2 separate regions of the Homo sapiens genome follow, and region 2 is linked to region 1. Evidence: fine-mapped QTL for protein levels in blood plasma. Region 1 holds a variant in brackets. A gene starts in the other region. All regions are shown on their reverse strands.

Evidence for each region. PIP is the chance, under the fine-mapping model, that this variant and not a neighbour inherited with it causes the effect. Protein levels are from antibody-based Olink assays in UK Biobank. Linkage for the fine-mapping came from a reference panel and not from the study's own genotypes, which makes the PIPs less certain.
Region 2: it holds the start of GPRC5C, and the variant in region 1 is fine-mapped to the plasma level of the GPRC5C protein (UK Biobank, PIP above 0.99).

The regions. Positions count from the first base shown.
Region 1 is chr20:3,688,859-3,694,363 of GRCh38, reverse strand. It overlaps SIGLEC1 (sialic acid binding Ig like lectin 1), which reads left to right. Exons shown (of 22, transcript NM_023068.4): 13 at 1-143; 14 at 666-917; 15 at 1,233-1,502; 16 at 1,592-1,843; 17 at 2,162-2,461; 18 at 2,764-3,024; 19 at 4,100-4,402; 20 at 4,662-4,764; 21 at 5,137-5,209. Among named protein-coding and RNA genes, the nearest start is that of ADAM33, 9.6 kb to the right of the region's middle. The variant G/A (reference allele first, on the strand shown) is at 2,965.
Region 2 is chr17:74,429,884-74,434,883 of GRCh38, reverse strand. GPRC5C (G protein-coupled receptor class C group 5 member C) reads right to left here and starts at 2,796. Exons shown (of 4, transcript NM_022036.4): 1 at 2,743-2,796. RefSeq lists a silencer at 3,784-3,923.

The sequences.
Region 1 (5,505 bases):
TCCCAGGCTGCATGTGGCTGTGGCCCCCAACACACTGCGTCTGGAGATCCACGGGGCTATGCTGGAGGATGAGGGTGTCTATATCTGTGAGGCCTCCAACACCCTGGGCCAGGCCTCGGCCTCAGCTGACTTCGACGCTCAAGGTCAGTGTGTGTGTGTGTGTGTGTGTGTGTGTGTGTGTGTGTGTGTCCTTTAAAAGAGGAGAGGAGGTGGGACAGGGTTCTAGAAGCCTGGGGGCACGGGAATAGTCCCCATTCCCACCCTTCCTAACGATGGTGGACTCCAGACTTGAGTTTCTTAGGAGAACCTTTTATAAACACCAAATTTTACAAGTATGCCCAGTGGATAAAACTAAACAGGGAATTTCAGGAGAAAGTGCAGCAGGGGAGGGGAGGTCTGTGGTCTCCCCATTTGCCCCCAGCCAGGGTCAGGGAGGGGCTCAGGGCTTTCCAGGACTCTGTGGAACTCTACTTGGGACCACTCAGGAGCCAGTGGGCTATTCCCAAGCTTGACTTCTAAGCCACATTTATAGGTGGGCCACCCAAGGCTCCCAAAGGCCAAGGGGCTCCCCAGCAGTAGGAGTAGCTCACCCACATGGAGACAGGTGGCCTGCTGTACACAGCCTCAAGACCCTCACTGGTGTCCTGTGCCCTCCCTCTCCCCAGCTGTGAATGTGCAGGTGTGGCCCGGGGCTACCGTGCGGGAGGGGCAGCTGGTGAACCTGACCTGCCTTGTGTGGACCACTCACCCGGCCCAGCTCACCTACACATGGTACCAGGATGGGCAGCAGCGCCTGGATGCCCACTCCATCCCCCTGCCCAACGTCACAGTCAGGGATGCCACCTCCTACCGCTGCGGTGTGGGCCCCCCTGGTCGGGCACCCCGCCTCTCCAGACCTATCACCTTGGACGTCCTCTGTGAGTCTGGCTGGATGCAGGGTGGGACTCACAGGAATGACAGAAGCCCACAGGGATCACGGCATGGCCGGAACCCGACAGGTGTCCAGTGGGGAACTCGGTACCCAGTAGCTAGTGGAGCACTGGGCAAGGAGCATTAAGAGTAGGGGGCGCTGGGGTGAGTCCTGTCTGGGCAGAGGAGCAGTGCCTCAGACTGGGTGGTTGGGAGCCATAGGGGTGGGGAGCCAGGGCCCTCCTGAGTTTGAATGCCACCTGCAAACTGGCCTCCTGCAGGCTGCTGCCTGTGACTCCGTGTAAGCCTCTCATGCCCTGCAGACGCGCCCCGCAACCTGCGCCTGACCTACCTCCTGGAGAGCCATGGCGGGCAGCTGGCCCTGGTACTGTGCACTGTGGACAGCCGCCCGCCCGCCCAGCTGGCCCTCAGCCACGCCGGTCGCCTCTTGGCCTCCTCGACAGCAGCCTCTGTCCCCAACACCCTGCGCCTGGAGCTGCGAGGGCCACAGCCCAGGGATGAGGGTTTCTACAGCTGCTCTGCCCGCAGCCCTCTGGGCCAGGCCAACACGTCCCTGGAGCTGCGGCTGGAGGGTAAGGCAGGGCCTAGGCCAAGCCCACTGGGATGGAAGCCCACTGTGGTGTCCGGCTGGGCCCGGCTGATCCTGGCCTCCTTGGCACAGGTGTGCGGGTGATCCTGGCTCCGGAGGCTGCCGTGCCTGAAGGTGCCCCCATCACAGTGACCTGTGCGGACCCTGCTGCCCACGCACCCACACTCTATACTTGGTACCACAACGGTCGTTGGCTGCAGGAGGGTCCAGCTGCCTCACTCTCATTCCTGGTGGCCACGCGGGCTCATGCAGGCGCCTACTCTTGCCAGGCCCAGGATGCCCAGGGCACCCGCAGCTCCCGTCCTGCTGCCCTGCAAGTCCTCTGTGAGCAGAGGGTCCTTGGCCAGGGCTGCCCAGGAGGAGGGTGGTGGAGGGTGCTTCTGGGCTCTGGTGGGAGTGGGCAAAGGACTGCAGTGGGCCCAGGAATGGGCAGTTGGGGAAAGAGGACATAGGTGCTAGAGAAAGAGACAGTCCTATAAGCCCTGCCTGGAGCACTCTGCCCACAGGACTCCTGGGAAGGTGTCACTTCTAGGAAGTGGCCATTGGTCCAGAGGCCTCAGCCTGACCAACCCCAGGCAGCTAGGCAATGAGCAGTACAGGGTGCCTAAGCAAGGTCCCCATCTGTGCCCTGCCTGCCCACAGATGCCCCTCAGGACGCTGTCCTGTCCTCCTTCCGGGACTCCAGGGCCAGATCCATGGCTGTGATACAGTGCACTGTGGACAGTGAGCCACCTGCTGAGCTGGCCCTATCTCATGATGGCAAGGTGCTGGCCACGAGCAGCGGGGTCCACAGCTTGGCATCAGGGACAGGCCATGTCCAGGTGGCCCGAAACGCCCTACGGCTGCAGGTGCAAGATGTGCCTGCAGGTGATGACACCTATGTTTGCACAGCCCAAAACTTGCTGGGCTCAATCAGCACCATCGGGCGGTTGCAGGTAGAAGGTGAGTGGAAGAGAGGGGAGGAGGAGGGGCTCTGATGCTCTCAGGTCCAAGTCCACGAGAGGGGCTGGAGCTCCCACTAGAGCGGGCTGTCTGGTCTGAGAAAGCTCTGCCTTGAGAAGCCTAATCTGGTGGAGGGGGCACAGCTCCCACTGGAGGGGGCATGGTTCCACCTTGGAAAGCCCTATACCAAGTCAGACTGAGACCTTCCCACAATGTGCAGAGGCCCCTCAGAGGTCCCACCCAGAGGCTCCAGCCCCCAAGGCCTACAGATCCCCAATCATCTCTCTATCCTCCGCCCGCAGGTGCACGCGTGGTGGCAGAGCCTGGCCTGGACGTGCCTGAGGGCGCTGCCCTGAACCTCAGCTGCCGCCTCCTGGGTGGCCCTGGGCCTGTGGGCAACTCCACCTTTGCATGGTTCTGGAATGACCGGCGGCTGCACGCGGAGCCTGTGCCCACTCTCGCCTTCACCCACGTGGCTCGTGCTCAAGCTGGGATGTACCACT[G/A]CCTGGCTGAGCTCCCCACTGGGGCTGCTGCCTCTGCTCCAGTCATGCTCCGTGTGCTCTGTGAGTGTGAACCCCCTCCTCCGCCTTAGTCTCCCCACATCTCACACGCCCACCTCAGTTCTTCCTCCTCTTCTGTCTGCCAAGAGTGAAGGCTTCACGGATATTGAGTCCTGGGTTGGAATCCTGGCTCTCCCGCTGTCTGGTTGGGTGACCTTGTAAAATGGGGAATACATCATTCGCCTCATCCTGCAAGTTGTATAAGAAATAAATGGCTGGTGCAGGGGCTTATGCCTGTAATCCCAGCACTTTGAGAGGCTGAGGTGGGCGGATCACTTGAGGTCAGGAGTTCAAGACTAGCCTGGTCAATATGGCGAAACTCCGTCTCTACTAAAAATACAAGAATTAGCACGGCATGAAGGCACACACCTGTAATCCCAGCTATTCAGGAGGCTGAGGCAGGAGACTCACTTGAGCCTGGGAGGTGGAGGTTGCAGTGAGCCAAGATCACCACAACGCACTCCAGCCTGGGTGACAGACTGAGACTCTGTCTCAAGAAAAAAAAAAAAAAAAGAAAAGAAAAGAAGAGAAAAAACCAAAAGAAATAAAGCGTGCTGAGTGTGTCTGGCACACGATAAGCCCTCATCAGTCTTGGTCTCCCACTCCAGCCTTCACCAAGGCCTACACTGTATCAGTCAGCTATTGCTATTGACCACAACAAAACTTACTGCTTCAAACAAAAGTCATGTTATCTGCTCAATTCTGTGGGCTGGGCTCAGCTGGGGAGTTCTTCTGTTGTTCACACCTCATGTGGCTGCAGTTGCCCAGTGGTCTCAGATGACTGCACGCTCCTGGCTGCCAGTTGGGCCACATGTGCCCAGCAGGCTGGCCTGGGCTTCCCACATTGTTGTGTTCCAACAAGTAGAGCAGAAGCTACAAGGCCTCTTGAGGTCTGGCTCTGAAGTTGCACAACATCACTTCTTTCTTCAATTGGTCAAACTGAGTCACAGATTCAAGGAGTGAGGAAATAGGTTCTGCCTCTTAATGGGAGGAGCAGCAAAGTCACTGTGCATGGGTACAGGGAGGGAGAAATTTGTGGTCATTGTCTGCAATCACCACACTCCCTTCCTCCCCACAGACCCTCCCAAGACGCCCACCATGATGGTCTTCGTGGAGCCTGAGGGTGGCCTCCGGGGCATCCTGGATTGCCGAGTGGACAGCGAGCCGCTCGCCAGCCTGACTCTCCACCTTGGCAGTCGACTGGTGGCCTCCAGTCAGCCCCAGGGTGCTCCTGCAGAGCCACACATCCATGTCCTGGCTTCCCCCAATGCCCTGAGGGTGGACATCGAGGCGCTGAGGCCCAGCGACCAAGGGGAATACATCTGTTCTGCCTCAAATGTCCTGGGCTCTGCCTCTACCTCCACCTACTTTGGGGTCAGAGGTGAGGGGAGGGGGCTCCATCTCCCAGGCCACTCTGCACAAAAGCCCAGCTCTTAGGCCCAAAGGCTTCCTTCCCTGTATCCCTCCTGCTGCAGCATGATTTGCCTGTCGACTCTAAACTGATTGCTCGGGGCACCCTTGTGTGGAGAGCTTCAGCGATAAAGCAAAAGTTAGAAGGTGTCATCTTGGGTGGGTCCCCTTGGAAGGAAGCACTGGGGGCCTGCAGCTGTGGCTGCTCTGAGTCCCGCTCTGTGTTCCAGCCCTGCACCGCCTGCATCAGTTCCAGCAGCTGCTCTGGGTCCTGGGACTGCTGGTGGGCCTCCTGCTCCTGCTGTTGGGCCTGGGGGCCTGCTACACCTGGAGGTGGGTCTGGAGCTGGGAGTGGGCCAGAAGATTGGGGTAAGGCAGCCCACCTCGTCTTCTCCCCAAATTCCCCCAGGTCCTTTAGGACCTCCTATTAAGTTCACAGGCTGCCTACTTCCCAGACTGCCCCTCCAAATTGGAAATCCCTTCTAGAATTGTCCCTAAATCCTCCTTGCTGTAGTTTCCTTCTTTCCTCCTCTCTGCCCTGGCTGTGCTAAAGCAAGGGCTAGGGAGGAAGACAGAGGAAGCACCCACTCTCCATGAGGTTCCCACGCTCTTGTGGTCTGGAGCCAGCCTGTGGGGAGCGGGAGAGGAATGGGGGCAGGAGGTGGGGAGGGGAGAGGCTCTCTGAGTCCACTCCGGGCCTTGCAGAAGGAGGCGTGTTTGTAAGCAGAGCATGGGCGAGAATTCGGTGGAGATGGCTTTTCAGAAAGAGACCACGCAGGTATCCATTCAACACACACGGGCAGATATAATACCCAGCTAACCCACAGTGCCAACTGGCATCTGGAGACTGCTGTCATTTAGAGGATGGTGCCTGGGACCAAGGGGAGGTTGGGGAGAGTGTGCAGGGAACCAGGAGCCCCTCAGGAGATAGGAGAGCCCTGTTCTGCTCGGGGCAGAGGGAATCCCTGTGTCAGCTGGCGGCTGGCTTAGAGGACTAGGGGAGACTTTCTGGACTTGGCAGCATCCCCTCCATTTCCAAGACACGTATGTTCTGACTCCCCCACCTTTGTTCTG
Region 2 (5,000 bases), not on the chromosome of region 1:
TGGCATGATCTCGGCTCACTGCAACCTCCAACTCCCAGGTTCAAGCAATTCTCCTGCCTCAGCCTCCCGAGTAGCTGGGATTACAGGTGCCCACCACCATGCCCAACTAATTTTTGTATTTTTAGTAGAGACAGGGTTTCACTATGTTGGCCAGGCTGGTCTCAAACTCCTGACCTAAGGTGATCCACCTACCTCAGCCTCTCAAAGTGCTGGGATTACAAGTGTGAGCCACCGTTCCCGGCCCAATGCCACCTTTTAAGATGGTGGCTAAGGGACTGACAAGATGGACTCAGCTCTGGTCAGAGGCTTTTCCTCAGGACCCTGGAGGAAACTTCTGCCTCCTGTGGGTCCCCAGACCCTGCACTAAGACTGAGCCTTCTGATCCCTGAACGTTCAAATCATGTCCGTGTCTCCCCTCCAGGGCTGTAAGGTCTTTGAAGCTGGTGAACAAGACTTCTAGAATCCACTGCCACAGCTGGTGCTGTGCCTGAACACAGTGGGCATTTGGAAGTCACCTCTGGATGGTCCCAGGTGCATTTCTCCACACCCAGGGTTGTCCCCTCCATGTTGGAGTTGCATCTTCTGCTTAAAGATTCTCAGAGGGTTCAAGGAGGGGGGTAGGAGGGGAACCTCCTTCCGCCCTGAGTCTCCCCCACCCCACAGCTGAAGCCCAGCTCCAGCCTCAGATTATTTTCTGGACAAAAGGGCCTTTTGCTTCACTTCCCTGGAATCAGTTGTACAAATATTTTTAATCGCCTCCGAAATCGGCCTTTCCCCAGGCTCAGCCACCCTGCCCCCAGCTCTCCTGTGAGTCAGTGCAGTCCAGTTGCTGAACCTCCCTCCTCCCTCCTTCTCTCTCCAGGGGGCGCAGAGGCCTGGTGGGCTCAGAGGCTCAGAGGCCCAGAGGCCCAAGCAGCCCTGACTGGTTTCCCCCAGCAACAAGTGGCTTCATCCAGCAACCGGGGAGACAGCCAGGCCTTCTCACTTCTCCAGAGCAAAACTCCCTTCCTCGCTCCAGCATCATCCACACACAAGCCTGAGACCCCCTCCACCCACCAGGGCCAAGGATACCGCACTGGAAAGAGAGCTCCAGCGCGTCACAGGGCCAACCAAACTCAACACTGACCCATGGCCAATGGCTGTCTTCAAGGGTGCTGTGACCAGGGCACTCTTCAGGGAGGTTCCCCCAGGGATACCACAGAGCACTTGCCTTCCTCCCATCCCACACACTCAAGAGCCTATAGGGAAAGACGATGGCCCGACTGACAGCCTTCCTGCCTCCACTCCTATCGGTCTCTCCCAGTCCCTGGTTAGGTCCCACTGTCTCACCCCTCTGTGCAGGGCGCTCAGGCGTTTACCCCATCGATAAGAAGGCGCACAGGAGACGCCTGTGCCTGGAAGGAGCGGCCTCAGTGTGTAGGTTGGTGGGGGGTGGGTTGGGGTTCCTCGAACCTCAGCCTAGACACCCCACCCCTATCCCCCTGCCCCTGCCCCGCACCAAGACCAGGCATTTGGGCCAAAATGCCCTGAGCTCTCTGAGACTTGGAAATCTTCAAGGGTCTGCTCTGGAATGTCACTCTGGAATGCGCCCCACCCCCCAATGCACTCCCTCCCCCAGTCCAGTTGAAGGCACAGGGGTGGGGGGCCGGCGGGGAGAGGAAGCTCCAGGAGCACAAAACCCTACTTCCAACAGTCTCCTCTCCCGGGCTTTAGGATCTTGATCGTGGAGTTTGTAAGTGATTGGGTCTTCCAGCGTGTAACACTGCGGGCCTGGGGATGGAGGTGCAAAGGACGCTGGAAAAGCCAGCCGGGAGTGGGGGTTCGGGATCTAGGGGCCAGGCTACCAGAAGGGGAGGCGCTTTGATAGTCTGAATTTCCAAACTTCCCTCAGGGGGATTCTGAACCCTCTCGTCCCTACTTGGGTCGACGGTACTGGGGTCTACACCTGCGCTCCCTGGGTGGCTGGAATGGGGAGCAAGGGAACCAGTCACTCTCTCCCATTTTTAGGGCCACAGAAACCTGCCCTCCACATCCACAGTAGCAGGCGGCAGAGAGGACGCCACCCACGAGAGAGAGTGACCGCGGACTCCCACCGAGAGGCAGGCGGTGGAGGGGCTCCTCTTGGAGACCCCGATTATGGAGTGGTTTCCCCTCCCTCCAGCCCGAGCCGCAGCGCCGGGCTCCCCCACCCCCCCAGTCCCCAGCCGGCTCGGGTTTGAAAACTTTCAGCGACCGAGCGGAGTTGGCGCGGCGTCCCCAGCCCGCAGGATGTCCAGTCCCCCCGCCTCTGCCCTCGCCCACTCCCCGCCGTCCCGACCCGACTCTTCCGGGCGGCGGAGCGGGAAGGCAGCAGCCCTTACCTGGGACTCGCCGCCGGCCCCGCTCCAGCGCAGCGTTTGGGGCCAACTCCAGCCCCAGGCGGGGGGCGGGCGGGGGTGGGAGGGACGCGGCGCGGGGCGCTGGGCCAGGCCCGGTCCTGGCTGGGATGGCGGGGCCCGGGCCGGGACGCAGGGCCTGCCTCTCCCTGGGACCGAGGCTGAGCCAGGCGCGCTGGGTTGCTCGCTCTCGCGCGGGCCTGTCCCCAGGCAGGGCTCCTTGCTTTCGGCGAGGGTGGGCTGGAGCCTGCATCACCGTTACATCACCTCCATTCAGGGCGCTAATCGGGCGCCCGCCGCGCTCCAGGTACGTGCGCTCCGTTTACACAGGAACAAAGCCTGCCCGGCCCTCCCCGCCCCGACTCACCTCCAGGCTGAGCCGACTCGTACTTTCCGGCTGGTGAGGGAGATGGGAGTTTCTGGCCCTGCCGGCGTGTGGGTTGTTGCTGTTGACTGCCACGCCCCCGCATGCGGGCGCGCGCACACTCACGCGCACTCACTTTCTGGGCTCGGCCTTCGCCGGGGCAATTGGTGTGAGGGTGCAGCCCTGCGCACCCCCCACCGCGTCTTCCAGAGAGCGCGCCTACGGACACGCGCGGGGCTACCTTGGCGCGTCTCCGTGGGGGACACCTAGCCTTTGTCACCTTCGTCCTGGCCCTCCCGTGAGACACACTTCAGGCACAGTTCGCTGGGAGCGGGCCGGAGCGAGGCGCACACTCAAGACAGAGTCCGTCTTTGTCACGCCTTCTGCGCCCCCTCCCCTCCCCAGCTTGCACACGTGGACACACCGCACACCGAGGTTCGCCTTTTGCACGCACGGTCCTTCTCTGGGACCTCCACCAGTCACCAAGCGTACGTGGGATCGTCACCAAGCGCTCCTCTCACGCGTGGGCCGAGTCCAGACCACTCTGGACCGTGGGCAAAGGTCCCCCTCGGCCCGACTACCCCGCGCCCGGGTTTCCTGTGACCGTTCCAGGTTCTGCCCAACTCGGAGCGCGCTCTCCCCTCCCGGCGTCCCCGTTCCCTGCTCCGACTTGTCCTAATTAGCCTTCACGGTTTTGTTCCCCGAGGTACAGTGTTTAGCGCGACCCCCTGGGCCTCTGCGCTCCGGGACACGTTGGCTCTGACTCCGAGTCCGTCCTTTCCAGGAGGTCAGGTTCCCACCAGCCCCACCCCCCACTCCCTGTTCCGGGGTGGATCTGTGGGTTGCCACCCTTTCCCCTCCGGCCCCAGGAATCTGCTGAAGCTGGACCGCAGAAATTGGGAAGCGAATCCAGGCTGGTACTTATCCAGCCCGATAAACAAGAGATTTTCCGGCCGCCTTCCCCCGGGGCTGCTGGCCTCGCGGGGGGTGGGGTGCGCAGTCCTGGGGGCCCGCAGCGAGGCCTAGTTAGCCCGCGCCAGAGGCCCGTAGGGGCTGAGGCGCACAGAGGAGGGAGAGGTTGTTGGGCCTGGCCAGGGCCCTGGAGACGCGGAGGGAGGGCAGGGCGCCGAGTCTCGGGGTGCCGGTTCTCATGACGCCGAATTGCCTGGGGGATCGCCAGCGGTGCGCCGGTCGGAGCCAGCTGGTGGCGGGGCGGGCGGCCCGGAGTGTTTGCTCAACCCTGAGCGCCCGCGAGGGGGAGGGGAGGCAGCTGGTCACGGGCTAGGGGGTAGCAAGGTGGAGGAGCGGGGGCTGGGAAAGGGGAGGGTATCTCCCGGGCTGCTTGTTTGCGTGCCTGCCGCGGTCTACGACAACCGGGAGTCTAAACTCTATGAATCACCCGGAGTTGCTGGAGCGATAAACCTCAGGCTGGTTCCTCCCCTCGCACACCGGCTTCTCGGACTCCTGGAGGGAATGTTTGCTTAGCGGCCGGAGCTGGCGGTGAGGCCCTGGTTCTCTAGAACCCTGTATCCCTTCCTGGCCTTGCCCTCACGGGCTGGTCTGGGGTGGCGAAGACTGAATTGTTTCAAGTCTCTTCAATATTAAGAAGAGGGGCGCAGTGCTGCTGCTGATCTGTTGCTCACTCCTGGGCTCCCTTCCGTAGCTCCACCTCCCACCCTAAGATTCAGAGGCCCCCATGCCAGGGAGGCAAACGCTTGTAGGGTCCAAGCAGTTGAGTGCCAACGCTAGAAAGGCAAACGGCGGGTCAGACCTAGGCGAGGGGCATCCGTGACTGTGGGCTGGGACTAGTTCTCGTGAAGCAGGCAACTGGTGCTGAACACAGTGTGCTGGGAGGGGCCGCTCATTAGCATATGTGAAAAGCCAGCTAAGAGCTAGAGGAAGGTGGAATGGAAATAGTCCCCGAGACTGCTTGTGACCTTAAGAAGCCAAAGATGAATTGTGGATCTGGCAGATCTGTTTCAATTTATTTTCAAGCTTTGGGAATCTCTTTTCCCTACCTAGATTCTCCAAAAAGGCAACTCTTTACCACTCCCTCCCGACCCAGGCGGGGGAAAGGCTGGGGCATCTGAGGCCTGGACGGAGCAGCGGAGCCCTGCCCACTGCCAGCCCTGCATGGTAGATGGCGGCGGATATGTAGGGAGGTTTCCTGAGAGCTGTTTGCTCTTTTTGTGTTCACTCCGTCTCACTTCCTGGGCAGGATTTGCCTTTAAAGGACAAAGCAAGTCCTTTGGGGCCGATGA